Regions from separate parts of the Homo sapiens genome. Here all the other regions are reported to be linked to region 1. Evidence: microRNA targets listed by miRTarBase, many of them from high-throughput screens and not tested one by one. Region 1 holds a microRNA gene; each other region holds the end of a gene's coding sequence.

Region 1 (3,256 bases):
CTTGTCAGCCTGGTATACACCTACTCTTCAAGTCTCAGCTCAAACAACATCTCCCTGTAAACACTTCCCTGAAACCTCCAAGAACAGATTCTCACTGATTCCTTGGTGTTCTAGCCCTTGGTGCTATAAGGTGTGATAAGAGCTGTTAGAGCTCTTATCACATAGAATCATCACTGTTTACAGGCAATTGCCACTGCTCTCATGTGATTTCAATGACTTGCTACGGATATTCCTGACTCTATGGTCTTTCTGCATCATCGACCCATAATCCAGCATCTCTACCTGGTTTCAGAACCTCCAATGGTTCCTTACACCCCACTGAGGCAAGCAGAAACTCAGTCACATGGCATGTGCATGGTCCTTTGTTAGCCATTTTCCAGCCTCATCCTTACCATCTCGTGTGCGTATATATTTATAACTTGATGACAGCTGCCATATTGAACGACTTTTACTTCCTTTAAAACACCATGTTCTTTTGTCCCTTCAAGGCTTTTTATGTGCCATTTTCCTTTACTGAAATGCCCTTATCCTAGACTTCTTCTCCTCTTTTGAGAAACCCAGTACAGTGTGTGTGTGTGTGTGTGTGTGTGTGTGTGTGTGTGTGTGTGTGTGTGTATGTGTATATATACATATATATAAAACCTAGTTCTAATTACTTTCTCCTTTTTTGCCTCCCATTGCTTTCAGGTAGGATTAACTGTCCTCTCTTCTGAGTACTCTCTTCACTTTATTTATATTATTAAATTAAGCCTTATCACTGGGCCATATTTTCATGTTTCTACCACCTATCACAAACCTGACCCACAGCAGGTGGGTTATAAAATGTTTTTGCTGCACTGATGGATATATCCAATCCAATTCAACAAACACTTACAAGCATCTGTTACAGGAAAAATCCTTCACTAGGCACTTTGGAAAAATAAATTAGGCATTCCCCACCCCTAAGAAGCTTACAGTCTGGTTAATAGCGTAAAAAGTTGATGCATTAGGAGACCTTGGTATTTAAAAGGAACAGTTTCATGCTGTCGAGAAACTAATTCATTACCATGGATTTTTCTGAAACAAGACTTTATTAAAGCAGGACACACCCTGCTTTGATTAGGCCTGGATTAGCTGGGCCTAGGTTGGGTATCCACTGTCTAAAATTTGTAATAAGTATCAAGGGAGATTGGGAGACCCTAATCCACATTCTCGCCTCACAGAACCTGGCCATTCAATATTAGAATACCCAGAGCCACAATGATCTCTTGAGAAAAATGATGGAAAAACTTTTATTATACTGATAGTAGTTAAGCCTATAGAAACTGGAATTTATAATCAAAAGGGCTTCTTCAAATCTCTGGGAAGAACACCTGTTATGAAGGGAATTCAAGTGGAGGTACGAGAGAATAAAAATGTATATGTCTTTCAGGAGACACTGGTTGACTATTGGTTGAGGAAATTGTTATGGAATGTATTACAAGGAGATGCCACTCAAATATCCTCTACTGTATCTTACAGGGACGCTGCCTAAAATTCTTTAAGATGGGGCACTGTATAAATATGGGGCTGCATGATGGAGAGTTCTAACAGCAACAATAGGGATTTCATAGTGCTTTAGCAATCTCCAAAAAGGCACATTTTAATATAATTTAATCCTGATAAAGCTCTATGTTCTACGCACAAGGTATTGTTAACTCATTTGACATGTGAGTAAACTGAAGGTCAGAGAACTTGTTGTTCTTATCCAGTACCACACAGCAAATAACTGGTAAAGCTGACCGGCGCTTGTGCTCCGAACTCCGCTGGTGTGGTGGTGATACAAGTGAAGTCAGAGGCAGTGGGAGCTGTGGCCGGAATAGCCACAGTTGAAGCCACTGATCATGACAGTGAAGTGGCACACAGTGGCTGCGTGGAAGGACAGCTCTGTCCACGTGGAGGAGAATGGATTAGCCACCTTAACCCTGCCAGGGGAAAGGAAGGAACTGGGAGGCTCGGGGTCCTGTGATTCTACCAGGCAGGGGCTTAAAGGTCAAAGACAATTACACAGATTTTCAGGCCATAGATCATTCCTCAACTACACTGCCCCCAATCCTTGCCTAGCTCAAACCCAAGGCCAATGTGGTAGAGGAAGCAGGGGTACATATAGTATCCATCTTTTCACATACAACACACTTTATTAACTTTGTTTGTCTGAACAGCAAAATATGACTCCTGAGTCTTCCAGAAGAAATTGAGAGTCATCTGACCAAGAAATAGCCTTTCAAACAATTTGGAAACTTGTTTGAGAGTGCCATTATCTGGGAGAGATGATTCTCTGAAATTTTCCACTCTAGGCTCTTCTTTCTTCCTTAGGAGGAAACACCAGTTGTGGTCCAAAAATTCTTCTTGCAGAAACTGGTTTTGTTCCATAGAGCCCACAACCCAACCCAACACCTCTTCGCCTTCCCCCGCCTCCCTCACTCCCAGATCCTTTACCACCTTCTGCCACCTCTATCATTCCTACCTCTACTACGCCTCCTGCTCCTTGAAGGATCCGTGTAAAAGGTCAGCTGGGGGTCGTTTTCTGCCTCTGTGCCAGAATCCCCTTCAGGGTTCAAGAAGGCGGAACCAGCTGTAATGAAAGCAGCATGGTCAAGAAAGCGTTTTCAGTTCTGGTTTCATGACACCAAACCTTTGGGCAAGTTCAATGGGAAAATCAACAAAAATGAAAGTAAGCTGACTGATAATCTGGGAGAAATAGCCAAGGGGGTTGGGGCTTCCTCATACACGGATATGTTGGAGAAGTAGACCATTGGGACAGCAATCACTGGAGCTCTACCCTGCCCCACCCACTTCCCTCTGACTAGGGCCATTTCTGGCACCTATCTGCCAGAGAGGACCTCCAGGGAAAGTGGGTGGAATAGGAAGAAAGGGAAATTTCCCTCATTACAGGTTATGATTCTGTTAATATGAGACTATCTAAGAGGTATAGGAAATTACATCTTTGTGTTTTTTCTGGCTCTAGAATTATATATATTTAATACAAAAAAGACAGAATAGAATAAAGGAAATGCACAAAACTATGTAAAGGGAACAATTCTAATGCCCTCTAAATCCTTTAAATCAGAGATAAACTCTGCTAACATTTCATGTGTATACTCTCTGGCTTTTACTGACACAGAAACAGGTAAAGGTTTTTTAATCTCTCTTTAAAAATGACATTATGCTGTATCTTCTATTTTATAACTTCATTTTTTTTCCCATTTAATAGATGGGTGGGCAACTTTCCATATTA
Region 2 (3,256 bases), not on the chromosome of region 1:
AAAAAATTTAAAGGAAAACCCCAATTCTATGTCTATCCCCAGTGATCGGAACTCAAGTTGCAAGCTGCTTTAAAATGACTCAGTGCTTAGCTGCACACTGGGACTGGGCCCAGCGACCCCGTTCTGGGGAGCGCTCACCTCCCTTTGTACCACTTCACCTGCTGCTGCTAACACTCTTGCTATAAGGGTGAAATCACATAATCGTATGTTTGCAGTTTTGTGGTAAAATAAACATAACTTCAAAGGATTATTATGCAAAGCCCCCACACCACTGCCATAAGCCTAATTGTTATTCTTCTCTGTCACCCCTTGAGCCCAAAGTACATAATCACCCAGTAATTGAACTGAAATGTCTAAATGGCTGAGGCTCCTAAAGGACATAGCTATTTACCAATGAAAAAAGTCAGAAAAATTTAGCAAACCTCCCTGGCGCTCTGCTGCGTTAGTACAAAAGACTGTGTAAATATGACCCACCTGGACCTGCTCCTCCTCCTCAAATCATTAATGGAAACAGAACAATCCTTGCTGTCACGGGGCAATGTGAGAGAAATAATTAAAATATCACAATTGCTTAGCTGTTTCTGAACAGAGCGGTGTAAGCTCTAACCTTTCTCAGGATATAATTTTATGAAAATTTAAGCAAAAGGCAGAAAAGTAAATTTTCCTGGTCGTATCATTAAGTGCTTCTGGGGCTGGGGGGAGAAGCCAGGGGGCCTCAATGTCAATGCTTCCCTCAATACAGACTGGGCAGTGAGTCCTGGGCTTTCAGGGATGGGGGTCACCCTGGAGGATGGGCGTTTTCATGGCAAGGGTCCTGACATTCTCAGTAGAGCCCGCCGTGCTCTAATCTGCAGAAAGAAGCCTCATCTCAAACACTGAATACAACAGCAGCCAGTTTTCTTTTTAAAATTGTAGATTTTTAAAAGCTCAGAAATCAGGTTTTCCTCTTTGGAGTAACACAGAACTAATTCCAGGGTCCTTGGGGTCTTTGCTGGTGGAGTAAGCCCTACCCCTCTACTCCCATCATTAAATATCTGGATAGACACACAGGTTAATTATACATATTTTTAAATTTTGCAAAGGATTCTCTGAAGGACGCATCTCAGCCCATCTAAGTACAAAACAGCCATCACTCAATGGCTAAACTCGGCAATCCTTGGCACCCAGTGGAGTTAAAAATTTTAATTATCATTTTTTAAAACGCAATACTTATCATTTGAATGAAACATGTCAGCACACAAATCATGAAATGATGATTCTGAATAGAATTTTTGTTGGTTGATTGCATAAGCAATACCTCTTGTTGCTGAAATAACATCTCAAAGGCAAAATAATGACGACATGACAATCCGTGTAAATCAAGAACTGCATGTGGGTTTATTTTACATCTGAGAAAACAGTGGATTTAATTGTGTGAACCAAAATGTACTGTACAATATTAATGATAGAACATCAAAATGTATAATTAATAGTGCATTGCTTGCTTTGTTTTTATGTATTTATTTTTGTCTGACAGTCCCTCTGAGTACATGCATCTGGAGAGATGCAGGTGCCAGTAAAAGTCCTCTATTTAAATCAAGCTGCAGGAACTAAATTTTATTCAAAAATTGTGGTTTTACATTATATACACAGAAATTTAATATAAAATGACAATATAAAAAGTTAAAAGAGAAAGCATACAGCCAGAAGGTACAAAGAAAGTTGAAGAGATTAAAATGGTACGATATGTAACATACAGGAGTTTTTAAGCTGATGCTGGCAATTTACAAGGAAAGGACTCCAACGTTTGCCCCATTTTTTTTCATTTACCAATGCAGCACGCTATAGAAAGGTCAGCTTGTACCAAAGCTTACATTTGTAAATAACTATAAACTGCAATATTTTACAGGAAAAAAGAAATAGCATTTTTACACATTTTTAAATAATAGCTTGCATACTTTTTTTTTTGCCGAAAGTGGCATTTTTCAGCATCCAGAGGGTTTGGGCATAGTGGCGAGTGGGGTATCTGTTGTTGTTGTTTTTTGTTTTAGACATGTAGAGGTGTGGCTTCCGAACCCCGTGAGTCCTAGACAGCTTTCTATCTTCCCACAGCTGCATGCATGTTTCCTCACAAACCAGTTCTGCATATAAAAGCTCATTTTTTAATTATTAAATAAGTTTTGTGTCTGACACAGCTTTTGATCTGAATGAAATGCCTTTAAGCCTTTTTTTCTTCTTTTTTTTTTTTCAAGTGAAAGGCACAGAAATGCAATTACAGTCCTCAAAGGGTTAAATTTGACACTACCAGGTTCTATGACCTTTATTGTCATGGCAACTTCACCATTTTAGGATGTCTTTTTATCATTGTTATTTGTGTCTTTCTTTACTGCTAAATAATGTCTCTGAGTAGTGTGCCCCACTATTTCCTACAAAAGATAGCTTAACACCAAGAACAGATGTTGAAAATAAAGGTCAGACTTTGACTCACGGAAAAAGAAAAATAACATGCACAGATCGGACAGAGAGCATATAAATATACAAAATATGTGTAAGAAAACCAAGGTCCAGAGAGGCGGGCCAGCAACAAAGGAAAGACTGATTTCAGAGGCTCAGGCCAGGCCTAGTGCAGCTCGACGACGTTTAGTGCAATGTTCCGCGGTCTCTTGCATACCTGGACGCTACTGTTTCTCCAACTCAGTCACATAGATCAGGTGGTCCTCGGGAGACTTGCCGTGGGTCTTACTAAGGTGCAGTTTGACTGCGTGCTTGCTCGCAAAAGTCCGGTTGCAGAGCTTACATTGGAATGTGGAGCCCAAGTCTTCCTCGGTGGCCCCCAGTGGGCCCAGAGTTTTGTTGGTGAGGACTTTCGAAACATTCTGCTGTTCTTGAATCTGATTGAGTGGCAGCTTGGAGAGATCCTTCAGGCTGAAGCCCAAGTGTGTCTCCAAATGACTTATGTATGTAGAAGCAGTTCTGAACTGAGAGGCACAATCGTTGCAAAAGAAAACAGGATGCCCTGTGTCCAGGTTCTTTAGGAATTTCGTTCCCCCTGTCCTCCTCAACTGGTACTTCACATTGGCCAGCCAGTGGCTGATGGTGGTCATGGAGAGCCCAGTAAACTTCGAGATGTGCACCCTCTCCTGCGGGCCCAAGTCCGACATGATGTACTTGCCCTCTGTGGTCTCCCGCAAGCTCGAGGCGAACTGGGCCTGCAGGATGAGAAGGTGCTGCGGGTTCCAGTTGGACTGCCGGCCCTTCCTCTTGTGGACCGGTGACA
Region 3 (3,235 bases), not on the chromosome of region 1:
GTGTGCCTCCCACCGGCGGCTGCGGTGAAGGCCCCGACGCTTTCTCTTGCTCTTGGGAGCGGCTGCATGAGCTGCGCGTCCTCACCGCGCCCACGCTGCGGGCCCAGCTTGCCCAGGATGGCGTGCAGCTTTGCGCCCTCGACGACCTGGACTCCAAGAGGCCAGGGGAGGAGGTCCCCTGTGAGCCCACTCTGGAACCCTTCCTGGAACCCTCCCTACTCTGACCCCCTACAGACAACCAAGCACTAATCCCCTTAGTACCAAGAAAGGGGAGCCAGGATTTAGTCCTGGCCCAGCCCAGAGCTGGGACCTGGAGCACGATCTGTTGACTTCCCTGGGTAGGACACTGCCACCTCTGGGCTCAGGTCCTCATGCCTCCAAATGGCATCTAGAGTTTGAGCAGCCTTCTTGGCTGCAGGCAGGCCTAGCCTGTGGCAGCGGGCTAGGGCCCGCAGAGCATTTGGTGCCCCTCCATGTTGCAATGCAAACACCTTCACCACTGGGGCAGTGGGGAGAGATGGCTATATTAATAAAATAACGTGTGTCTTTCAAACTTGGGTGGTTTATCAGCTGTGCCCAGGAGACCCTCAGAGAAACAAGCACGGACAAAGAGCAGCTCCCTCTTGGCTCAAACCACTCCAGGAAATGGCCCATTCTCCATTCTGGTTTTGTTCATGCTGCAATTTTCTTTATTCCTTTTTAGGGTGGGAGTGGGAGATTGTCCTCACCAGGCTGCTTTGGAAGAGGCATAATACTATAATCTCAGTATTGATTTAAGAAGTCACCTGTAGGCTGAGTGTGGTGGCTCACACCTGTAATCCCAGCACTTTGGGAGGCCGAGGCGGGCAGATCACCTGAGGTCAGGAGTGCGAGACCAGTCTGACCAACATGGAGAAACCCCATCTCTACTAAAAATACAAAATTAGCTGGGCATTGGTGGTGCATGTCTGTAATCCCAGCTACTGGAGAGGCTGAGGCAGGAGAATCGCTTGAACCCGGGAGGCGGAGGTTGTGGTGAGCCGAGGTCGCGCCCCTGCACTCCAGCCTGGGTAACGAGCGAAATTCCATCTCAAAAACAAAAGTCATCTGTTTAGATGTAAGCCATTCTACGGGATAGGCGTGAGGAGACCCTGCAACCCTGTGGGAATACATTTAAATTTTTCTAGGAGGAGCAGTCTTCCCGGGAAATGGGATACCATGGTTCCTAACTTCTGGCAATGTAGGGATGCCCTGTGGACTGGGGCCGCATGTGGCTTAGCTGAAAGCTCCTGAGGTGCAGGAGCAGATGGGGAAGGCAGTGCGAGTCCTCTAGAGCACAGAGTCCTTCTGCACCACTCCGCAGGATGGAAAGGCAGATGGAATACCATGTGGTCCTTGTCTCATTTCATGAAATAGCATCTATGAGGCAGGCACCGATGTCCCCATTTTACAGGGGTAGAGGCAGGAGTGGCAGAGCAGGGCTTTGAAACTACTCATTCATTTATTTAATGTGCACTGGGCCCTAGCCTGGGCCAAACATGGAATCAGGGGCCAAGAGAGCTCTCATCCAGCCTAGGCAGCTTGGAGAGACGTGTGGCTTTCTGAAGGGTGAGTGTGGGATGTCGCTCCTCCTTCCTGCTTCTACCCACTCATGGCCCCATCCCCTTGACTGTGGCTTCAGTCCCTTTTTCTGGCTCCACACTCGTCTTCCATCTTGACCTTCACTAGACTTGGACTCTCCCATCTGCAGCACTTTTCCTGCTTTCTTGCACCCATGCTTGTGAGCTGGAATCACTGTACAGTTGCTCCTCCTGCTGCCTAGCCTCCACCTCCTCGCCTCAGCCTGCTGAGATCTGGCCACACTCCTGCAGGCTGCTGGCTAAGGCTGGGAGAGGGGTGGCCTGAAGTTAGCCGGGGATACAGACGTAGCTCCCTTGAGGGGCTTCTGTTATGGAAGTGTTCTGAGAGGAGGAGGCAGCTGGTTGTGCAGCTTTAGGCTCAGGAGAGGTGTGGGTGGGCAGGAGAGACCTGGGGGTCTGCACAGATGCTATATGAGTGGCTACTGTCACTCAGGGAGGGAAGGAGGGATGAGCAGAGTCGACAGCAGCCCTGGGGACCGTGAGACTTTTTTTTTCTTTTTAAAGACAGGATTTCATCCTGTCACCCAGGCTGGAGTACAGTGGCACAATCACGTCTCTGCAGTTCTCCACCTCCCCAGGCTCAGGTGATCATCCCACCATGGCCTCCTGAGGAGCTGGGAGCACAGGCATGCCTGGTTCATTTTTGTATTTTTTGTAGAGATGGGGTTTTGGCATGTTGCCCATGCTGGTCTCAAACTGCTGGGCTCAAGAGATCTGGTCACCTTGGCCTTTCCTAAAGTGTTGGAATTAACAGGCATCAGCCACAGCAGCCGGCTGACCATGAGCATTTGAGTGAAGTGAAGCCAGGCACAGTGGCTCACACCTATCATCCCAGCACTTTGGGAGGCTGAAGTGGGAGGATCACTTGAGCTCTGGAGTTCCAGACCAGCCTAGACAACATACTAAGACCTTATTTCTGTTATTTAAAAAAGAAAAAATAATGGCTGGGCATAGTGGCTCACGCCTGTAATTCCAGCACTTTGGGAGGCTGAGTCGGGAGGAAGGCTTGAGGCTAGCAGATTGAGACCAGACTGTGTAACATGCCAAAACCCTGTCTCTATAAAAAATACAAAAATTAGCCGGGTGTAGTGACACAAGCCTGTAGTTCCATCTACTCAGGAGGCAGAGATAGGAGGATCGACTCAGCCTGGGAGGTAGAGGCTGCAGGGAGCAGTGATCATGCCACTGCACTCTAGCCTGGGTGACAGAGTGAGCCTGACTCAAAAAAAAAAAAAAAAAAAAAAACTGAAGTGAGGGGGCATAGACTGGTAGGATAATCAGGCCCACCTGATTATAATGAGGCCCATCTCACGAGGAGGTGAAAGTGATAAGGACCTGTTGGGGTGGTGACTGGTGGGCCACAGGGGCTGTGGGGGCAGCAACAGTGTCTTAGCCAAGCGGTTCACTGTTATCCGCCCACTCGGCATTCGTGTCTGGAGGGTCCACTCTGTGCTAGGCCAGGGCTGGAGCTGACATGGCCTGGTCTGCAAGGAGCTCCCAGTCTGGTACATACAGGGACAGTCATCCAGTGTCATCCAGTGACACACAGAGGAAGATGTAGGAGAAACCCACGGCAACATGTGGAGCCACAGGGGGGTTTCTGAACCTGGCCAGCA

The links. The annotated mature microRNA hsa-miR-488-3p reads UUGAAAGGCUAUUUCUUGGUC and lies in region 1 at 2,226-2,246, opposite strand. An mRNA with a match to its seed (bases 2 to 7 or 8) in the 3' UTR can be bound and repressed. Matches are read on the target gene's strand: a 7mer-m8 pairs with bases 2 to 8, a 7mer-A1 pairs with bases 2 to 7 and ends in A, and an 8mer does both.
Region 2: miRTarBase lists TSHZ1 as a target of hsa-miR-488-3p. Seed matches in the 3' UTR shown: 7mer-m8 at 2,232-2,238.
Region 3: miRTarBase lists YDJC as a target of hsa-miR-488-3p. Seed matches in the 3' UTR shown: 7mer-A1 at 546-552.

What each region holds. Positions count from the first base shown.
Region 1 is chr1:177,027,149-177,030,404 of GRCh38, forward strand. MIR488 (microRNA 488) reads right to left here and starts at 2,297; the gene lies at 2,215-2,297. ASTN1 (astrotactin 1) reads right to left here. Exons shown (of 23, transcript NM_004319.3): 5 at 2,486-2,593.
Region 2 is chr18:75,288,043-75,291,298 of GRCh38, reverse strand. TSHZ1 (teashirt zinc finger homeobox 1) reads right to left here. Exons shown (of 2, transcript NM_001308210.2): 2 at 1,355-3,256. The coding sequence ends at 2,658. Among named protein-coding and RNA genes, the nearest start is that of TSHZ1, 79 kb to the right of the region's middle.
Region 3 is chr22:21,625,407-21,628,641 of GRCh38, reverse strand. It overlaps YDJC (YdjC chitooligosaccharide deacetylase homolog), which reads left to right. Exons shown (of 5, transcript NM_001017964.2): 5 at 1-553. The coding sequence ends at 224. Among named protein-coding and RNA genes, the nearest start is that of YDJC, 3.0 kb to the left of the region's middle. RefSeq lists an enhancer at 179-786 and a silencer at 2,990-3,235.